Regions from separate parts of the Homo sapiens genome. Here region 2 is reported to be linked to region 1. The links are microRNA targets in miRTarBase. Many come from high-throughput screens and were not tested one by one. Region 1 holds a microRNA gene; the other region holds the end of a gene's coding sequence. Distances are from middle to middle.

Region 1 (10,695 bases):
CTCACTTCTGTCTGCAGACACAGTCTTCCTCTCTCAGCCTCCTGTACCCATGAGGAGAGACTAATGTGGGGTAGGGGTAGGGAAATGGCTAGGTCCAGGGAACCTTCTCCCCCATGTCAGGTGAGGAGACTGGAGGAGAAAGTGATGCTACCTCCTTAAGAGCTGGTGCTCCCTGGGATGCTGGAATCCTCTCTCTCTCCTTGCATTGAACAGATCATAAAATTGAGTCCCAGAGAAGAGCAGGGACCTGTGAGTCCTAGAAGATCAAATAGGCCTGGCTGATGCCTATAATTCTAGCACTTTGGGAGGCCAAGGCAGGCGGATTGCCTGAGCTCAGGAGTTTGAGACCACCTGGGTAACATGGTGAAAACCCGTCTCTACTAAAAAGACAAAAAATTAGCCGGGTGTAGTGGTGAGTGCCTGCCTGCTTCCAGCTACTCGGGAGGCCGAGGCATGAAAAATCGCTTGAACCCAGGAGGCAGAGGTTGCAATGAGCCAAGATTGTGCCACCGCACTCCAGCCTGGGTGACAGAGGGAGACTCTGTTAAAAAAAAAAAAAAAAATCAAGTGGGCCAGAAGGTCCCCCAGACTTCTTGCCTCTCCTCACTTGGCAAGTAAACACCTGTGGCCCAGGTCCTTAATCATGCCCTTCTCCCACCTTATAATTTACCCACTCTTTGGTTGTTGTTTTTTGTTTTTTGTTTTTGTTTTTGTTTTGTTTTTTTGAGACAGAATTTCACTCTTGTCGCCCCGGCTGGAGTGCAATGGTGTGATCTCGGCTCACTGCAACCTCCGCCTCCCCAGTTCAAATGATTCTCCTACCTCAACCTCCCAAGTAGCTGGGATTGCAGGCACCCACCACCATGCCCAGCTAATTTTTGTATTTGTAGTAGAGACAGGGTTTCACCATGTTAGCTGAGCTGGTCTCGAACTCCTGACCTCAGGTCATCCGCCCGCCTCAGCCTCCCAAAGTGCTGGGATTACAGGCATGATGAGCTACCGCGCCTGGCCTAATTTACCCACTCTTCAACCTTCCTGGTCCCCCAAACTCATGGCTCCCCCTGAGGTTCTACAGGGGCCTCCTATTTGTGTTGTGTTCCTAATCTCCATCCCTTCCCTCTGCCCTCTGGAGAGGGTCTAAATGCCTCTGCATGGTCTTCCACTCCCACCCACCCCACCCACTACCCCAAGCCCTTCCTTCCTTGCCAGTCTATCACTCCTTCCATCCCTTCACAGACCCTACTCTCTGTGCCAGGGTGGTGAAGCAACATTTCAACAGGAGCAGGTTTTGAGGGCGGATTCCAATTTTGGGCCTGATTCTTACCAGCTGTGTAGTCTTGGGCATGTTGCTTAACTTCTCTGGTCCTCTAGCCTCTCATCTGTAGTAAGACTTCCTTCACAATCCTGGGGTGAGGGTTAAATTGCATAAAGCCCTTAGCACAGTATGCAGCACTTTATAAACATTCAATAAATGTTAGCTACTGCTATTATTATTATTAAAGGAGTAAGGGCAAAGAAGGGGAGGGGGCAGGGGGACTTGGGAGCAAGCAGAGGAAGAAATCAGAAAATTTATATTTTTAAAATTATTTCCCACCGGAATGAATATTTTTTATTCAGCACAATGTTGTAGGCATCAAATAATATTAAATCTATGCTGGGTTCCAGCAGGATAAATGCCAACATCACCAACAGGGCTTCCAGGGATTATAAGTGCCTTAGTGTGCTAAAGCAGAGAAGATATTACTTGATATATTTTTGAAGCTGAAGTGCTTCCAAGTTTGGTAGTTCCAATTCTGCTACTTCTTGGGAACGTTTTTAATAACAAGAACATGAAGAAATAAACAGTGCTGGTTCCCTAATGTTAAAGTTTCAGGAACGTGGTTATTGCTTTCCAGAAAATACCATGAGAATGACCTCATTTCCGACTAAGGAAAAGTTGAACTCTCTCCATTTTTTCCACCTTATGAACCCAACAAAAAGAGCAAAGAGGAATATAATCAGGGAGTTTATCTTAATGAAAGCTGATGGCTTCAATATCTTTTTTCCCACAGTTTAATTGCTTTAGGCATTTATTATTAGCTATGATTAACGCAGAAAGAAGGGACAAAAAGCTCACAAACACTATACAATTTCACAAGATGCATTGCAGGGGGAAAAGTGACTGAGATGGATCAGCAATATCCCAGGGTCTTGGTGGATGCATTCCTGGTGGAAAGGGTCTCATTCCTGGAGGGGGCATGCCTACTGGCGTCCCTCTAGCAAGGGGAAGCCCAATTGGTGGGCCCATGGGTGGTTTCATACCAGGTGGAGGAAACATAATGCCTAGAGGTGGGGCTGCTCTGCCAACAGGTGGGGGTGGAGCCCCCGGTCCTGGTGGGTACTGTGTTGGGGCTCCAGTAATGCTCTTCTCTGTGGAGTCATTACCTGCTGGGATGGTCCCCCAACTCCTGGGACGGGGCCTGCTAATCCACCAGGAGCCTGGGGAATTGGTACACCAGCTGATACTCCTCTACCAGCTGCCCTAACAACTCCAGGGCCTCCTGCAGCTCCAGCAAGTGGTACCCGAGCAATGCCAGTATATTTTGGGGGTAGCCCCTCCACAGTCATGGATACCAAGTTCTCCCCATGCAGCAACACCAGACCCCAAAAGTGCTTTTCTTCGAGCTCTGGTTGCTTCACGTTCTTTGGCTTGATCTTTCTGAACTCATCACAATCGCAGAGGATCAAATTCACATGCTTGTCAAACGCCTTAAAGATGCCAAAGAAGATTGTGCCTTCCTGTAGGATGCATTTCATTCTATAGTCAATGTGCTGCTGCAGCCTTGCTACTCGTGCCCACAGTCGTGATTGCTGCTTCACCAAATCCCGTGTCCACAGTTAAAACTTCGTGCTTCTTAAGACCTGGGGGAAAGCTATAGATAAAGGTATGGTGCAGGTTCTCCCAGAAACAATGCAAGCTGAGGGGGAAACGTGGTGGCTCACGCCTGTAATCCCAACACTTTGGGAGGCTGAGGAGGGCAAATCACCTGAAGTCAGGAGTTCGAGAGCAGCCTGGCCAACATGGTGAAATCCCATCTCTACTAAAAATACAAAAATTAGCTGGGTGGTAGTGGCATGCACCTGTAATCCCAGATACTCAGGAGGCTGAGACAGGAGAATCGCTTGAGCTAGGGAGGCGGAGGTTGAGGTGAGTCAAGATGGCATCACTGTACTCCAATCTGAGTGACAGAGTGAGGTGCTGTCTCAAAAATATATGTATAATTTTTAAAAGTATATTGAAAGCATTGGGTGAGGTGGCTCATGCCTGTAATCCCAACACTTTGGGAGACCAAACTGGGAGGATCCCTTGAGGCCAGGAGTTTGAGACCAGCTTGGGCAACAGCAGGACCCTGTCTCTACAGAAAAATAAAAAATATTAGCTGGGTGTGGTGCGTGCCTGTAGTCACAGTTATTCAGGAGACTGAGGTGGGAGGATCACTTGAGCCCAGGAGTTGAAGCCTGCAGTGAGTTAGGATGGTGTGCCACTGCACTCCAGTCTGGACCACAGGCTGAGACCATGTTTTTTTAAAAAAATAAAAAATAGATAATGGATCGATTGATAGAGAAAGCTCACTCTGTGATGAACCTGTTCCGAGTATCCTCATAACAACTTTTTGAGGAAGGAAGAAATTGGAACACACCTGTGGTTAAACAAGTTGAGTTTATCACTTGTTATGGGGTAAGGGTGAGAGGACATGAATCATGAGAAACAATAGGGCAGCTGGGCTTGGTGGTTCACATCTGTAATCCCAGCACTGTAGAAGCCCAAGGTGGGAGGAACACCTTAGGTCAGGAGTTCGAGACCAGCCTGGCCAACATGGTGAAACCCTGTCCCTACTAAAAATACAAAAATTAGCCGGGAGTGATGGTGGGCGCCTGTAATCCCAGCTACTTGGGAGGCTGAGGCAGAAGAATCACTTGAACCCAGGAGGCAGAGGCTGCAGTGAGCCGAGATCACACCACTGCACTCCAGCCTGAGTGATAGAGTGATACTCTGTCTCAAAAACAAACAAACAAACAAACAAACAAACAAAGGGGCATCTCAGTAACAAAGTGTTACAAAGGACACATAGGATTTGGGCTTGCATTAGGTGATTTGGACGAGGGCTTAAGAAAATGGGGTTTTCTGGATTGGATGCTGCCTATGAGTGAGTACCTTGATAAACATTATTTAGAAGGAGGGAAGAGTAGACCGAGGCTAAATCTATAATCTCTATACAAGCCAGAATAGGGAAATGTTTGGCCATTTTTGTAGTTCGAACAATGCTCATGTTTTGTCTGGGTTTAGACATGATTCAAGTGGTTTTGTTATTGTCTTGATCCATCATGGTCACATAGTGGCTTTGTTTGATGTTGATGTTCTGTGAAGTTTTTATGTTCAATAAGAGAACACACCAAGGTCTATTTGTGAGTGCCAGACCATCTCCTGGATGTCAGGGGCTGTTTTTCTCTTAGCGCTTGGTTTCAAATCCAGGTTTGTGTGACTGGAAACATCCCTTGTATTACTTCTTGATCACAGGAACTTGCAAAGGTGGCTGGCAGACTAGGACTTTCATCTATGAGCTTATTTCATCTACTATTTTTTATTTTTTTTTCTGAGATGGAGTTTCACTCTTGTCGCCCAGGCTGGAGTGCAATGGCACGATCTTGGCTCACTATAACCTCTGTCTCCTGGGTTCAGGCAATTCTCCAGCCTCAGCCTCCCAAGTAGCCGGGATTACAGGTGCCCGCCACCACGCCTGGCTAATTTTTGTATTTTTAGTAGAGATGAGTTTCACCATGTTGGCCAGGCTGGTCTCGAACTCCTAACCTCAGGTGATCTGCCTGCCTCGACCTCCCAAAGTGCTGGTATTATAGGCGTGAGCCACCGCGCCGGCCTTTATCTACTATGTTCACCTCCTACTCAGGTCCGATCCCTAACCGTTCCTGGGATAACTGTAGGTACTTAATAAATGCTTGTTGAATGAATGAAGATGGCTGTCAAGAACTCCAATGACTGCTTGAGTGCAAATCACAAGCTCCATCACCTATCAGTATGTGATTTGATACAATATGTATTAACAGCTAATCCACAATCCATATTCAAATTTCATTACTTGTCCCAATATTGTCCATTACAACTATTCCACCACCACCACTACCCCAGTCCAGGGTCCTATTTAGAATCACACACCACATTTTGTTGTCATGCTTCTTTAGTCTCCTTTAAACTGGAACAGTTCCTCAGCTTTTCTCTGTTTTTCATGACAATGAGTTATTTTGTAGACAGTGTCCTTCATTTGGGGTTCTCTAGCACTTCCTCATGAGATGTGTACGGTGCACTTTTGACAGAAATACCACAGATGTGTTCTCAGTGCATTTTATTAGGAGGCCCTTGATCTGACCCATTAACTAGTGGTGTTAACTTTGATCACTTTGATCTGTTTGTTCTGCTAGGTTAAACCTCTGTAACATCACCATTTTCCCTTTGTAATCAATAGCTAATTTATGGGAGACACTTTTGCTGTTGTAAACATCCCGTTTCTCTAGTTTTACCACACATTATTGATTTCCTAATTCCACCATGTTTATTAGCTAGCATTCTACTAAAAGGAAGACTTTCCCTTCACCCATTAATATGCTCACTTCTTTATGTTTGTAAAGACTCATGGATTACTATTTTATTCAATTAGTTATACTCTATTACTATCACTCCATATTTTGATTCTGAAATTGCCCTGACTTGGCCAGTAAGATCTCCTTAAAGACAGCTCCTGTGTTCTTTGACACATTCCCATGATTCTTATTACCATCATCCTTATATTCTGGTGTAACAAGATGTTCCAAGTTTATCTGGTACTTTCCGGAATGAGTTAGTTCTTTCTCTCTCTCTTTTTTTTTTTTTTTTTTGACGGAGTCTCACTCTGACGCCCAGGCTAGAGTGCAGTGGTGCGATCTCAGCTCACTGCAACCTCCGCCTCCCGGGTTCAAGCGATTATCCTGCCTCAGCCTCCCGAGTAGCTGGGATTACAGGTGTGCGCCACCACGACCGGCTACTTTTTGTATTTTGAGTACAGAGGGGTTTCACCATTTTGGCCAGGCTGGTCTCGAACTCCTGACCTCAAGTGATCCATCCGCCGCGGCCTCCCAAACTGCTGGAATTACAGGTGGGAGCCACCGCGCCCGGCCGGAATCAGTTTTTTTCTTTTAGGAGCCCCGAACCCAAAGCTCTTTGAAAAGCTGCCGAAGCTCCAAGGTTCCTCCGCTTCCTGCCCGCAGGCGGAACCTTAGAGCTTCAGCCATGGAAATTAACCTCTTCCGGTTGGGGCCGGAAGTCCCTCCGAGAGGGGCGGCTCCGCGTCATGTGACTGGAGTCCGCGTAGGAGGGGTCGGAGGTCTTACCCAACAGATTGACGCGGCGTTAGTATTGGCCGTGTACCCGAAAAACTGATTGACTGGGCTGGCGTTAACTGTGCGGAGGCAGGTATGTGAGGGGCTGGGGTTGGGGCGGGGGCGCCAAAGTTTAGGGACGGGGGCGGGAGACCCGGGTCCGCCTTCCCAGGACACACGGGCTTGAACATCTGAGCCCAGGGGCCCAGAGACAGCAAGACCGGTCGTGTCTGTCCCCGAAAAGAGGACGAGCTGGCGTTGTGGTTCTGCGTCCCATGAATACAGATTGGGGAAACTGAGGCCTTGCGAAAGAGAAGGGCTCCCACAAGCTCTCCTTTCGAGGCATGGGCACTGATTCCCATTCTATCCCCCGTGCGAGACCGCCTCTATCATCTGGGAGTGCATTTCACGAGTTTGCCCTGAGTGGAGAAGCAGAGGCCGGGGAGCGCGGTGAACAGAGTTGGGCTGAAAGTAAGAGACCTGGATTCGAGACTTCGCCACCGACAGACAATTGTGCGTTCTGGGCCAAATCTCTTCCCTGTGCTGGGCCTCAGTTTTCTCGTCTCTAAAACGGGGCAGTGTTTTTCAAAATATGGTTCTTACACCATCTGCTTTGTAATTCTCTGAGATGCCGGCTTTACAGCGCGGGACTCAATTCAGACTTCTGGTTTAGAATCTGAACTTATGCGTAGGGGGGTCCTGTATATACTAATGTTTGAAGCTCATTGATTTTAAGTGCTTTCCTGCTGTGAGCACTAGATATCCATTCTTCGCTTTGAGGCAGCTGGTGCCAGTTCAGGAACTTTGAAAGAACTGGAATGGTTAGCTCAGTAAAGAGAGCACTGGAAGGGAATTAACTTTTTAAAAATTGAAAATACTGTTACGGCAAAGAGGGCTTCCACTTCATCTTTAGGCTAAAAGAGGCAGAACTAGGACTAACAGGTGAATTCTACAGGAAGGCAAGATTTTTGCTTAATAGAAGAACTTAAATGGAAGAATCGTCAGAGGTGACCACCGATGGAGTGAATGGATTGCCTCCGTGCCTCCTTTCGAGGGAGGTATATAGGTATTAGATGAAGGTCCTTTCCAACTTGAAAGTCTGTGATTCCAAGGAGTTGTTCTGCATCTTTCTGGTGCTGACTCTGCTCTCAAGGCAAATGTGACTTTTTTCTTCTCTTTTGACACTTCCATCACTTTAGCCTACATCTCCTGTAAATAAGGCCAATGCATCTGACCTTACATAATCTCTTCCTGGTTGTCCTGTGCACCATCCTTCTTTTCAAGGACTTTGGAATGACCCAATATCTGATAGAGGCACCTTAAATGTTTATTGAATGAATAAGTAAACTGGGTCCCACCCCATGGGTTAGTAGCTTTTTTCTAAGAACAAGTTGGAAATGCCTCTGAAGATTTTATGTTTGACCAGGAGAAGCCAGTGAACTCTGAATCACAAAATTGAGGACTCTCAGTTGAAAGCACCCCTTGAGGTTGTTCAGACCAGCCTTCTCTTCCCTGGAACATAATCCCTGCTTGAATCCTCTCTTCAGCAATATGTGTATAGATGTGAGAGAATTTTTGCAGTCTGTTGGCTAGCTTTCCATGCATCATATAAAAACAGTCCTCTTATAGACTTGACTTGCCAGTTCACACACATGACAAGTTCCAGCTTTTTTTTTTTTTTTTTTGAGTATTTAGTAGAGATGGGGTTTCACCATGTTGGCCAGGCTGGTCTCGAACTCCTGACCTCAAGTGATCCGCCTGCCTCAGCCTCCCAAAGTGCTGGGATTTCAGGTGTAAGCCACTGTGCCTGGCCTCTAGCATACCTTTGGTTTTCTAATCAAACATTATTATGTCCTTATTTTGTGCATTACAAAGCTCTGCCTAAATCACTTTTTCAACACCTGCTAGAATGCTTAGGAATGTTTATGTTGTCTTAGGGAGCAGAGGCTCCATATTATGACCCAGTTCTGCTGACTTGCTCCCCCGCCGCCACAAAAGTTAGGGTTGAGCCAAAACTTCCTGCCAGTTATCGACTTGTGTTTCCCAAGATTAAAAAATAAAAAAGTTGTGAAATGCTTATTCAGATGTTATCCAGGTACTGGGTAAAATGATCTTAATTTGTTGGAGTTTTTAGAACTTCTCGATCTAAAAGTTTCCTTTTAAAGAAGTGTCTGAATTGACATTCTCATAAGTATGTTCTTCAGGCCACTGGTCTGAAGAAGTGGCTCTGAAAAAAGGATTTGATGCTAATAATAAGTTTGAGAAAGCCACATACCATTATTCTTTCTTGGAGCTTCTCAATGTGTAATACCACATTAAAACCACTGAGAGGTCCTGCAATAAGGAAATGTGCCTTATAAGCCAAGATAATAACTTGTTCCATTTGTTTAATCTACTTGATGTCAAATCTTTTTTTTTTTTTTAATTGAAGCACACGTTAGCAAATTCTGACCTAGAGTGGGGATCTGCATACTATATATAGGCTGTGAACCAAACCTGGACCTACTGCTTGTTTATATGGTCTGTGAGCTAAGGGTGCTTTTTACATTTTTCTTTCTTTTTTTTTTTTTTTTAAGACGGAGTCTCGCTCTGTTGCCCAGGCTGGAATGCAGTGGCTCCATCTCAGCTCACTGCAAGCTCCGCCTCCTGGGTTCATGCCATTCTCCTGCCTCAGCCTCCCGAATAGCTGGGACTACAGGCGCCCACCCCGATGACTGGCTAATTTTTTGTATTTTTAGTAGAGGTAGGGTTTCACTGTGTTAGCCAGGATGGTCTTGATCTCCTGACCTCGTGATCTGCCCGCCTCAGCCTCCCAAGGTGCTGGGATTACAGGCGTGAGCCACCACGTCTGGCCTGCTTTTTACATTTTTAAATGATGGGAAATAAAAGAAGAATAATATTACATAGGTGACAATTACAGGAAGATAAAATTTCAGTGTTCATTTCAGTCACACCCATTTATTTATATTCATATATATTTACATATTGTCTTTGGGTGCTTTAATGCTACTCAGTGGAGTTGATTACTTCCCATAAAAACCATATGGTCCACAGAGTCTGAAGTATTTACTCTATGGCCCTTTATGGAAAAAAAATTGCCAATTCCTGACCTGCATCGTGTACATTTTTTTTTTTTGAGACAGTGACTCGCTCTGTTGCCCAGGCTGGAGTGCAGTGGCACGAACATAGCCTACTACAGCCTTGACCTCCTGGGCTGAAGCCATCTTCCCACCTCAGCCACCCGAGTAGTTGGGACTACGGGCACACACCACCACACCCAGCTAACTTTTAGGTTTCTTGTAGAGATGAGGTCTCACTATGTTGCCCAGGCTGGTCTCAAATCTCCGAGCTCAAATGATTCTCCTGCCTCAGCCTCTCAAAGTGCTAGGATTACAGGTATGAGCCACCACTCCCAGCCATGTATTGTTTTTTAACTTTTTATTTTATTTTATTTATTTATTTATTTATTTATTTATTTATTTGAAACGGAGTCTCACTCTGTCCTCCAGGCTGGAGTGCAGTGGCGCAATCTCGGCTCACTGTAACCTCCACCTCCCGGGCTCAAGCAATTCTCCTGCCTCAGCCTTCTGAGTAGCTGGGACTACAGGTGCACGCCACCTTGCCTGGCTAATTTTTGTATTTTTAGTGGAGACGGGGTTTCACCATGTTGGCCAGGATGGTCTCAATCTCCTGACCTCAAGTGATCCACCCACCTCAGCTTCCCAAAGTGCTGGGATTACAGGCTTGAGCCACCGTGCCTGGCCCCTTATTATTATTATTATTATTTTTTAGATGGAGTTTCACTCTTGTTGCCCAGGCTGGAATGCGGTGGGACAGTCTCAGCTCACTGCAACCTGTGCCTCCCAGGTTCAAGCGATTCTCCTGCCCCAGCCTCCCAAGTAGCTGGGATTACAGGCATGTGCCACCACACCTGGCCAATTTTTGTATTTTTAGTAGAGGTGGGTTTCACCGTGTTGGCCAGGCTGGTCCTGAACTCCTGACCTCAGGTGATCCACCCGCCTTGGCATCCCAAAGTGCTGGGATTACAGCCGTGAGCCACTGCGCCTGGCCTTTTTATTTTGAAATAATTTTACTCTTATACTAAACTTGCAAAAATAATTCACAAACTTTCTGTATATCTGTCATCTAACTTCACCTAATGTCAAAACTGTACATAATTATATCAGAATTATCCAAACAAGAAATTTAACATTAATACAATATTACTAGCTAATCTAGAGACTTTATTCAGATTTTGCTATTTGTCCCACTGTGTCCTTTTTCTGT
Region 2 (10,695 bases), 4.4 Mb from region 1:
ATCATTCTGAGCACAGCTGTCTGATGCTTGTTTTTTTTTCACACACCAACCCGTGCCTCATTTTCCAACCTGGTGGAACCTCATTTTTTCAACCTCATTTTCCTGCTGCTCAGGAAATTCTGAAAGCCATTAATTCCACTGCCAGCTCTTCTTCCAGCTGCCAGACGGGCCGATCTCTGATGCTTGGCATCGCAGTCTCGCATTTGAATATGTCAAGGCCACGAGTCCTCAGGGGCCCCGGATTAGCCTAACGGGATGGGGTTTGGCAGCCCAAGCAGGAAGAGTTGCCAAGCTGACGCTGCCTCGCAAGTGCCTTTCAGAAGAGCCCACACTGCAGTTCCCTCCATCACCTCCCATCCATTCAGGCTTCCTTGGTTAACACTGACTGTGTGCCAGGCCCTGGGGAGACCAGGACGAGTGGGTGATGGAACCCTTCTCTGTGCCCGAGCTGTTTGGAGCACACCTTTGATCTGGACACCATTCTGAATGTGCCATGTGCCATTAAATGGGGGTAAATGATGTGCTCTGGGGGTGCAGAGGAAGGTGGCAGCCATTCTGCCAGAAGCTGGAACTGGTTGCTTCTCTTCTCAAGAATTTGGGCCAATTGCTGATTCCTCTGGGCCTCAGTTTCCTCATCTGTGAGACAGGGATCTTGTCACACCACAAGGCTATCAAGAGTTTGAGCAAAAGTGGTTGGACGCAGTGGCTCATGCCTGTAATCCCAGCTCTTTGGGAGGCCGAGGTGGGCAGATCTCTTGAGGTCAGGAGTTCAAGACCAGCCTGGCTAACACAGTGAAACACCGTCTCTACTAAAAAATACAAAAAATTAGCCAGGTGTGGTGATGGGCACCTGTAATCCCAGTTACTCGGGAGGCTGAGGCAGGAGAATCTCTTGAACCCAGGAGGTGGAGGTTGCAGTGAGCTGAGATCTTGCCATTGCATTCCAGGCTGGGCAACAAGAGTGAAACTCTGTCTCAGAAAATAAATAAATAAATAAATAAAAAATAGCTAGGCATGGTGACAGGCGCCTGTAATCCCAGCTGCTCCAGAGGCTGAGGCAGGAGAATCGCTTAAACCCAGGAGGTGGAAGTTGCAGTGAGCCAAGATCACACCACTGCACTCCAGCCTGGGCCACAGAGAAAGACTCCATCTCAAAAAAAAAAAAAAAAAAAAAAAAGTTTAAGCAAAAGTGAGGAAGGTGCTTATTAAAAGCTGGAAATCAGGATGGAGGTACCAGTCCAGACAGCCTCCCCACCACCCCACCGTCTCCACAGCAGCCCCTGTTTCAGATTCACAAGCCTGCCTTGAGTGATGCAGTGAGTTATCCTGGAGGCAGTGTGGGCCTTGGAGGCCAGCACTCACTTTTTCATCCTATGATTTATTTGAGAAGCAGAGAGCACCTACCGGGTGCCAGGCACGAGCTAGGTGAGAACAGAATCAGGTAGAAATCTCAGCCTAGCCACACGGAAGCTGTGTGATCTTGGGCAGGCTGCATACCCTTTCTGAGCCTCAGTTTGCTCACCTGTAATGCAAAGGTAACAAAATCTTGACAGAGGCATAGTGAGGAATCAAGAGAACAACGGGCCTGGAGCATACACCCAGTGCTTAGCCCCCAGTAGGCCCTCACTCTCATCATTACTGACACCTGAGGTCACTGAGCATGTGCCACTGTCCATTCATTATCTTGCATAACTCCCAAAATCATCCTGCAAGGTAATATTTCATCTTCATGAAACAGACAGAGAAACTGAGGTTACAGAGGTTTCGTGATCTGCCCAAGTCTGCTGGCAGCTAAGCGGATGAGGCCAGATGCAAACTAGGCATTGAGCAAGACAGGCAGGACCCCTGCTCTCATAGAAATGATTTTTATTATTATCTGAACACAGTCCACACAAGTGACCTACCCCTCTCCAGCCCTGCAAAGAAATGTGAAGTGAGTTAACTGTATTTGAACCAAGTGGTCCACGTGTTAGCTATGCGACTGTGAACAGGGGCTTCAACCCCCTCAGCCTCAGTTTCCTGTCCTGGAAAATAATCGCAGGGAGAATAATCGCAGCTACCCCGAAGAGTCGCTGTGTAGGTTAAAGCAGTTATGCCGCATAACTGCTTCAGGGCACCTGTGACTCCCAGCTCTTAGGGCTGATGTTCTGTGGCCAGAGGAGGGCAGGGGTTGCAGCTGGCCGGTGAACTCACTACCTGGGCTCTCTCCCTGCAGGGGATGTCTTCATCCTGGTGTTCAGCCTGGATAACCGGGAGTCCTTCGATGAGGTCAAGCGCCTTCAGAAGCAGATCCTGGAGGTCAAGTCCTGCCTGAAGAACAAGACCAAGGAGGCGGCGGAGCTGCCCATGGTCATCTGTGGCAACAAGAACGACCACGGCGAGCTGTGCCGCCAGGTGCCCACCACCGAGGCCGAGCTGCTGGTGTCGGGCGACGAGAACTGCGCCTACTTCGAGGTGTCGGCCAAGAAGAACACCAACGTGGACGAGATGTTCTACGTGCTCTTCAGCATGGCCAAGCTGCCACACGAGATGAGCCCCGCCCTGCATCGCAAGATCTCCGTGCAGTACGGTGACGCCTTCCACCCCAGGCCCTTCTGCATGCGCCGCGTCAAGGAGATGGACGCCTATGGCATGGTCTCGCCCTTCGCCCGCCGCCCCAGCGTCAACAGTGACCTCAAGTACATCAAGGCCAAGGTCCTTCGGGAAGGCCAGGCCCGTGAGAGGGACAAGTGCACCATCCAGTGAGCGAGGGATGCTGGGGCGGGGCTTGGCCAGTGCCTTCAGGGAGGTGGCCCCAGATGCCCACTGTGCGCATCTCCCCACCGAGGCCCCGGCAGCAGTCTTGTTCACAGACCTTAGGCACCAGACTGGAGGCCCCCGGGCGCTGGCCTCCGCACATTCGTCTGCCTTCTCACAGCTTTCCTGAGTCCGCTTGTCCACAGCTCCTTGGTGGTTTCATCTCCTCTGTGGGAGGACACATCTCTGCAGCCTCAAGAGTTAGGCAGAGACTCAAGTTACACCTTCCTCTCCTGGGGTTGGAAGAAATGTTGATGCCAGAGGGGTGAGGATTGCTGCGTCATATGGAGCCTCCTGGGACAAGCCTCAGGATGAAAAGGACACAGAAGGCCAGATGAGAAAGGTCTCCTCTCTCCTGGCATAACACCCAGCTTGGTTTGGGTGGCAGCTGGGAGAACTTCTCTCCCAGCCCTGCAACTCTTACGCTCTGGTTCAGCTGCCTCTGCACCCCCTCCCACCCCCAGCACACACACAAGTTGGCCCCCAGCTGCGCCTGACATTGAGCCAGTGGACTCTGTGTCTGAAGGGGGCGTGGCCACACCTCCTAGACCACGCCCACCACTTAGACCACGCCCACCTCCTGACCGCGTTCCTCAGCCTCCTCTCCTAGGTCCCTCCGCCCGACAGTTGTGCTTTGTTGTGGTTGCAGCTGTTTTCGTGTCATGTATAGTAGTAGAAATGGAAATCATTGTACTGTAAAAGCCTAGTGACTCCCTCCTTGGCCAGGCCCTCACCCAGTTCAGATCCACGGCCTCCACCCGGGACGCCTTCCTCCTCTGCTCCCAAACAGGGTTTCCGTGGCCTGTTTGCAGCTAGACATTGACCTCCGCCATTGAGCTCCACGGTTTACAGACAATTGCACAAGCGTGGGGTGGGCAGGCCAGGACTGCTTTTTTTTAATGCTCCCATTTCACAGAGGATACCACCGAGACTCGGAGGGGACACGATGAGCACCAGGCCCCACCTTTGTCCCCTAGCAAATTCAGGGTACAGCTCCACCTAGAACCAGGCTGCCCTCTACTGTGCTCGTTCCTCAAGCATTTATTAAGCACCTACTGGGTGCTGGGTTCACTGTGTCCTAGGAAACCAAGAGGGTCCCCAGTCCTGGCCTCTGCCCGCCCCTGCTGCCCCACCACCTTCTGCACACACAGCGGTGGGGAGGCGGGGAGGAGCAGCTGGGACCCAGAACTGAGCCTGGGAGGGATCCGACAGAAAAGCTCAGGGCGGGTCTTCTCCTTGTGCCCGGGATTGGGCTATGCTGGGTACCACCATGTACTCAGGCATGGTGGGTTTTGAACCCATAAACCAAAGGCCCTTGTCATCAGCTCTTAACAAGTATATTTTGTATTTTAATCTCTCTAAACATATTGAAGTTTTAGGGCCCTAAGGAACCTTAGTGATCTTCTATTGGGTCTTTCTGAGGTTCAGAGAGGGTAAGTAACTTCCTCCAGGTCACACAGCAAGTCTGTGGGTGGCAGAAGCAAGCTAGCGCTGGGCATTCAGTACATACCACGATGTGCTCCCTCTCTTGATGCTTGGCCCCTGGGGCCTTCAGGGCTTTGGGACATCTTGTCCTCAACCCTCTCCCTAGATCAGTCTGTGAGGGTCCCTGTAGATATTGTGTACACCATGCCCATGTATATACAAGTACACACAGATGTACACACAGATGTACACATGCTCCAGCCCCAGCTCTGCATACCTGCACCTGCACCCCAGCCTTGGCCCCTGCCTGCGTCTGTGCTCAAAGCAGCAGCTCCAACCCTGCCTCTGTCCCCTTCCCCACCCACTGCCTGAGCCTTCTGAGCAGACCAGGTACCTTGGCTGCACCGGTGTGTGGCCCGCTCTCACCCAGGCACAGCCCCGCCACCATGGATCTCCGTGTACACTATCAATAAAAGTGGGTTTGTTACAAAGCCGTGTCCTTGCCCATGTGTATTTTTTGTATTTCCAAGAGGAGGTGTGCCCCTTTCCAGACCAAAGCTGGCCTTTCCCTCCCAAAATGCACCTGCCGTGTGCCCTGGCCCTGAGGGTCAGCACTGAGTCCACCTTCAAGTGTAAGTGTGGGGAGAGGGGGATAAGTCCCCCAGATGGAAGGTGATGCCCTCCTTCAGCCTGGCCCTCCTGGGTCCTCCGGGTGTGTGTACCGAGGTGTCTGTGTCCACAAAGAAGGGGCCCCCGTGGACCATTAGCTCCAGGAGGATCTCCGTGTCTGAGTTCTTTGTGATTCCTGTACAGCAGCAATTTCACCCGCAGGGGACAGTTGGCAATCTCTGGAAACCTTTTCCAAGCCTGGGGCTGGGGCTGCTACTCTCATCTGGTGGGTGGAGGCCAGGGACACCATTCAGTATCCTCCAACGCACAGGATGCCCCTCCACCCCCACCCCACTGAGAATTATCTGGCCTCAAATGCCAAGCGTGGGCAGCCTTACTTAGACTCACCCCAGGGGCTGGGACACGCCCCCACCTGCGTGTGATGGATTTGTTGGACCACATTCTGGACGGAACCCACAGCATGAGCACTCCTGTGAAGTGAGACAGGATGTGGGTGAGGATGGAAAGTGGAGGCTGAGGGAGAAGGTCTGGGCCCTGACCAACACGGAATGTGCCCCCTGGGACTGAGAGGCTTCCCTGGGCAGAGGGAAAGGAGGAAGTCAGTGAGGTAAAATACTCCCTGTGTGTTTTACCCAGCGAGTCTCACGCCATCCTATCACCCAGCCCCGAGGGAAGCCCACTCATGTTCACCCCATCTGAGCATTTAGGCTCAGAGAGCTCAATATCTTGTCCAAGATGGCACAGCTGGTGAAGTGGCAGATCAGAGATTCAACACCAGAGGCTGTCTGATTTCCGTCTGGCTGAAGAAAGATTTTGCATCAGGGAGGTGGAAACCATCTGTGCTTTTGATCAGCAAATGCCACCAGCAGGATCAGGGAGCTAGGCCATAAAGGAGGTCGAGAGACAGGCAGTGTAAGGTTCATTGGGAACCACATTGTCCATTGGGAAGCCACAACCTCTGCACAGACATTCACAAAACAGAGCCAGGCTGTGGTGGAGGCGAGACCACACAAGTCCATAGTGTGGGGAGCTGGAGAACTCCCAGCCTCTACCTACCTGGGGGCCCCGCTCCCAGCCTGTGCATATCTGGGGGCCCGCTCCCAGCCTCTGCATATCTGGGGGCCCTGCTTTCAGCCTCTGCCTACCTGGGGGACCCTGCTTCTAGTCCCTGCCTACCTGGGGGCTCGGCTCCTAACCTCTGCCTACCTGGGGCCTGTCTCCCAGCTTCTGATAATCTAGCAGCCCAGCTCCCCTCCAATCCTTTGCCCACCCCAGCCACAGAAGGTCAGTGTGGGAGGCATGTCCCTCGGACACTTTCTAGATCCTGGTTTTCATACACACAAAGCATGGAGGCGAACACTCCCTTCTGCATCGCCATCAGCGCTGAACCATAACAAGGGCGCTGGTGCACAGAGACAGGCCTCCACGGTGTCCCGCTGGAGCCCAGCCTGCTGCTGCCACTCCCTTTCTCTATGTGGGTCTGGAAATAAGTCTCGTCCCCTCGCAGGCCTCCTTTTCTTCATGAGTAAATGGGAGGCGGGAGGAAGGCATCCGGACCAGATACACACCAACAGCCTCTCGCAGCCCTGATGGTCTCTACTAGAAGGAATTAATATTCCTATTGCATAACTCACAACATTCCAATCATCACCAAACAGAACACGCTCGCCCCAGCCCCAGCTCTAGCCCCACTCTTTGTTCCCTGCATCCCACAGTCCTTGCCCTGGAATGGGGTTGACAGCAACAGGCTGCCACAGAGGAGAAAGACACATGTCTTCTTAGCCCTGGGACAGTGGGTAGGATAAGATTGTAGGAAAATTCCCTTCATGGTGAGACCATTTAGAGCCAAGCCCAGGATAGCCGGCTAATCCCCCGACCCTAGGAAGGGAGCATTGGGAACATGATTTCAAAGAATTCTGCGCTGTGAACTCTAAGTACTTGTTCTGTTCCACCTCCCTGAACCTGTCACTTACTCGAAAGAAAAACTTCAGTCTGCATCACGGTTTGGTGGGGGCTGATGGGAGGCCTGCCAGGGGCTCGGCAGTGAAGGCTGCCGGGAATGGGGGAAGGGAAAAGGAGCTGACCTTTGCGAAGACCTTACTCTGTGCCAAGCACTGTGCTGAGCCTTTTACCTGCGTCCTGTCATTGAATCCTCATGGCAGAGCTAGCTGGAATCCTTTTTTGGATAAGAGAGAATGGAGTTCAGAGAGGTAAAGTCACTTGTCCAAAGTTGCACAGCCAGGAAGGAGCAGAGCTGGATGAGAAACCATGTCTGATTCCAAAGCACATTTTTGTCTCCAGGGCTTTTATAACTGAGCCAGCTGAGAGGTTGCTCTCTAGTGGGAGAGTCCAGTGAGTTGGGGTGCAGTGTCTGGACGTGGTTCAGGGAACTCAGAAAATGGGGTGCTCTTCCGTTCACAATAAAAGGCTGAGCTGCTGTCACAAGAGAGGAACCCAACTTCTTTTTCATGGCAAAGTCACTCTGCTCCACCTGGTCACTCAGGCACCCAGGTTTCTTCCGTCTTCAGGTTCTTCCATCTCTAGGACCTTGTCACCATCTGCACGGTTGAAGCCACTGTAACATTCAGGTTCAGCCGAAGGGATAGGGGAAGAGAGTGTGGAAGAGGTACACCTGCTGTTTTCAGAGCCATGGACTCATCACTTCCACTTTCTAGCAATGGCAAGAGCCCAGCCATGTGACTGTACCTACCTATGAGAAGGCCTGAGAGATGCAGTCCTTTGCTAGGTGGCCCCATGCCCAGCGGTGACTCCACTGTGGAAAGGAGGAGGAGAGATCTGGTTGGCCAGCCTGTTGTCTCCAAACAGCCACCCTAATGCAGTGGGCCAGCCTCGGGACACCACGGGCAGTCTGACTTCAAACAAGCTCCACTTAGCAGATGAAATCAGAAAGCAGCTCTAGGCTCCCAAGGCTGCTTTAAATTGGCTCTGAGCAGGCCGGGTGAGGTGGCTCACGCCTGTAATCCCAGCACTTTGGGAGGCTGAGGCGGGCGGATCACCTGAGGTCGGGAGTTCGAGCCCAGCCCGACCAACATGGAGAAACCTCGTCTCTACTAAAAATACAAAATTAACCAACCATGGTGGCGCATGCCTGTAATCCCAACTACTCGGGAGGCTGAGGCAGGAGAATAGCTTGAACCCGGGAGACGGAGGTTGCAGTGAGCCGAGATCACACCATTGCACTCCAGCCTGGGCAACAACAGCGAAACTCTGTCTCAAAAATAAATAAATAAATAAATAAAAATAATTGGCTCTGAGAACTTATTCACATCCAACCCCCATCCCCAGATGAAAACTTAGACTATCCCATGATTTTTCTCATCTCTCTTGGAAAACAGAATATACCACAGACATTTTAAGTAGTAAGTAGAGTCTCAACTAAAATTCCTTGGCCAGTGTGATCATCAGTTTCCAGTCTTCATTCAAAAGAGTTTCCCTCCCTCGCCCAGCGGTGGTCTATTGCACATAAAAAGCTGGAGACTTGGGAAGAGAAGGGTGGATACTTCACTTTTCTCACTTGCCTTCTCTCTCTTTAGCTACTTCTGGTTCCTCTCTTCTCCATTCTTGGGAGGTGGGTTTGGGGGTGGAGGGAGAAGAGGCTGAGAAGGGGGTGGAGGGAGAAGAGCAGGGAGTTCTTCCTTGCCTAGTTACTACGGCACTTTGGGAAGATGGTGTCACGTTCCAAGCATGGCCAATGTTTAATGATACCATTAAAATCTCAGGGGTTATTTTGGAGATTGTTCCCTGCCATCACTAGGAACCTGTTATCTGCAGAGGCTTCTATGCATCTCTATCTTCCGGGTGTACCTCTTCCACACTCTCTTCCCCTATCCCTTCGGCTGAACCTGAATGTGGCAGTGGCTTCAACTAGGCAGATGGTGACAAGGTCCTAGAGATGAAGGAACCGGAAGACAGAAGAAACCTGGGTTGGTTGCTTAGTCCCTCCGCAGCCCCAAGGAATCTTCTGACGCCTTTTGATTCTCTGTGCAGAGGCTTTTTGCCCCTTTGGGGTGTTCTATCGGACAGGGCCTGAGGCACCCCCATGCCAGCTTCCTCTTGTGGTCAGCCCACATCTGGCGCATATGAAACTCACACCCTCTACCCCAATCAACTCTAAGAGTGTAAGTTGCTCTGAGTTTACTGGGATCTTTAGCATCTAACCCAGCCAGTCTGTCACATGTGAGATTTATCAGGCAGAGGACAGTGGCCCACAGAGCCACTCTGCCCAGGGACACATGTCCAGCTCTCTAGGCTTGAGCTAAGGGCAGTCCCTGTCACAGCATACTGTAGTGCTCAACAGTGATTCTCTTTCCCAGGAAATCTTCTTCCTGCTGACTATTGTATATCTTGAGAAGTACAAGAGTCAAGGAGCTGGTTCTTGGCCAAATGCTTTGAAAATTTTGCTCTTGGTTTGATACCTTACTTTGGAATCTGAGGTCAGCCTTCTTAAAGTGTCAGCCAAAATGAAGAAGCCAGGGTCATCCACCAGATAAAGGGGTCTGGGGAATGGCACTCACAGAGGGACCCCTACCTCATCTAGGAAGAGGAACCCTGAGCAGGAAAGTGAGTTAGAGAGTTCAGGATTGAACCAACCCAGGTATCCTGGGTGCACACCTTAATGCGCCCCTCAGTAAGAGAGGCAGAGCATTTGGCTTGTTCATAACGTAGTCTCTGGTCTGAGGCTGCCTGAGTTCAAATCTCACGTCTGCCATTTGCTCATCTGCTAAAAGGCAAATGACTTTTTGTATTGGTCAGCTATTGCTGCAATAGTGCTGTGTAACAAACCACCCCAAAATTCAGTAGTTCTCAACAACAAGCATTTCTTCTTAGGTTTACAGGTCCCTAGGTCAATTGCAGTTTGAGTGGACTGGGCTGAATATCACCTCAATACTGATCTTGTCTTTATTTAAATTTTTGACATTTTGTTCCTTATGGATTTTTTGCATTAATTTTTATTTTAAAAATATTACATAAGTCTGTGAACCGTGGCTCCCACCTGTAAACCCAGCACTTTGGGAGGCCAAGGCAGGAGGATGGCTTGAGGCCAGGGGTTCAAGACCAGCCTAGGCAACATGGAGAAACCCCATCTCTGCAAAAATCACAAAAATTTAGCCAAGTGTGGTGGCACATGCCTGTGGTCCCAGCTACTTGGGAGGCTGAGATGGGGGAATCACTTGAACTCAGGAGGTTGAGGCTGCAGTGAGCTATGGTCATGCCACTGCACTCCAGCCTGGGCAACAGAGTGAGACCCTGTCTCAAAAAATTGTATCTATCTATCTATCTATCTATCTATCTATCTATATTAATGATAGCACTAAATATCATTAATTTATAATGATAATATATAAATAATAATAATAATTACAATAATATATAAATAGAATTATAATTATAATATAAATTAATATAAATATAATACAATATATAATAAAAATTATAATTATATATAAATATTAACAGTAGCATTATATATATATATATAAAAAACATGAAAATATTATTCACCTTGATTCCTGGGGGTTTTTGTGGGTGAGGGGGCATCTGAAGTATTGTGCTTAAGGTAATTGCCTCCCTTGCCTCACCCTAGTTCTGGCTGTGGCTCCTCCGTATCTTCTCCATGACTCAGCGTCCTCATTTGTAAAATAGGAATAATCACACCACCTCACTGGATGGTTATGAGAACTAAATGACTTATTACTTGTGAAACATTTAGAATGGTGCCTGGCACATCATAAGCACCAGCCATAATGATTTCTGTGTCACTGAGGCTCCTTGCAGGTGCACCTGGGGGTGAGCAGCATTCCCACTGGGGCCCCCACCCTGGTC

The links. The annotated mature microRNA hsa-miR-3928-3p reads GGAGGAACCUUGGAGCUUCGGC and lies in region 1 at 6,261-6,282, opposite strand. An mRNA with a match to its seed (bases 2 to 7 or 8) in the 3' UTR can be bound and repressed. Matches are read on the target gene's strand: a 7mer-m8 pairs with bases 2 to 8, a 7mer-A1 pairs with bases 2 to 7 and ends in A, and an 8mer does both.
Region 2: the mRNA of RASD2 is a reported target of hsa-miR-3928-3p. Seed matches in the 3' UTR shown: 8mer at 3,385-3,392 and 8mer at 3,825-3,832.

The regions. Positions count from the first base shown.
Region 1 is chr22:31,153,802-31,164,496 of GRCh38, forward strand. MIR3928 (microRNA 3928) reads right to left here and starts at 6,318; the gene lies at 6,261-6,318. It overlaps RNF185 (ring finger protein 185), which reads left to right and starts at 6,381. Exons shown (of 7, transcript NM_152267.4): 1 at 6,381-6,502. It also overlaps the pseudogene SNRPNP2. RefSeq lists a silencer at 2,142-2,436.
Region 2 is chr22:35,549,288-35,559,982 of GRCh38, forward strand. It overlaps RASD2 (RASD family member 2), which reads left to right. Exons shown (of 3, transcript NM_014310.4): 3 at 2,216-4,712. The coding sequence ends at 2,745. Among named protein-coding and RNA genes, the nearest start is that of RASD2, 14 kb to the left of the region's middle. RefSeq lists enhancers at 1-466, 3,003-3,982.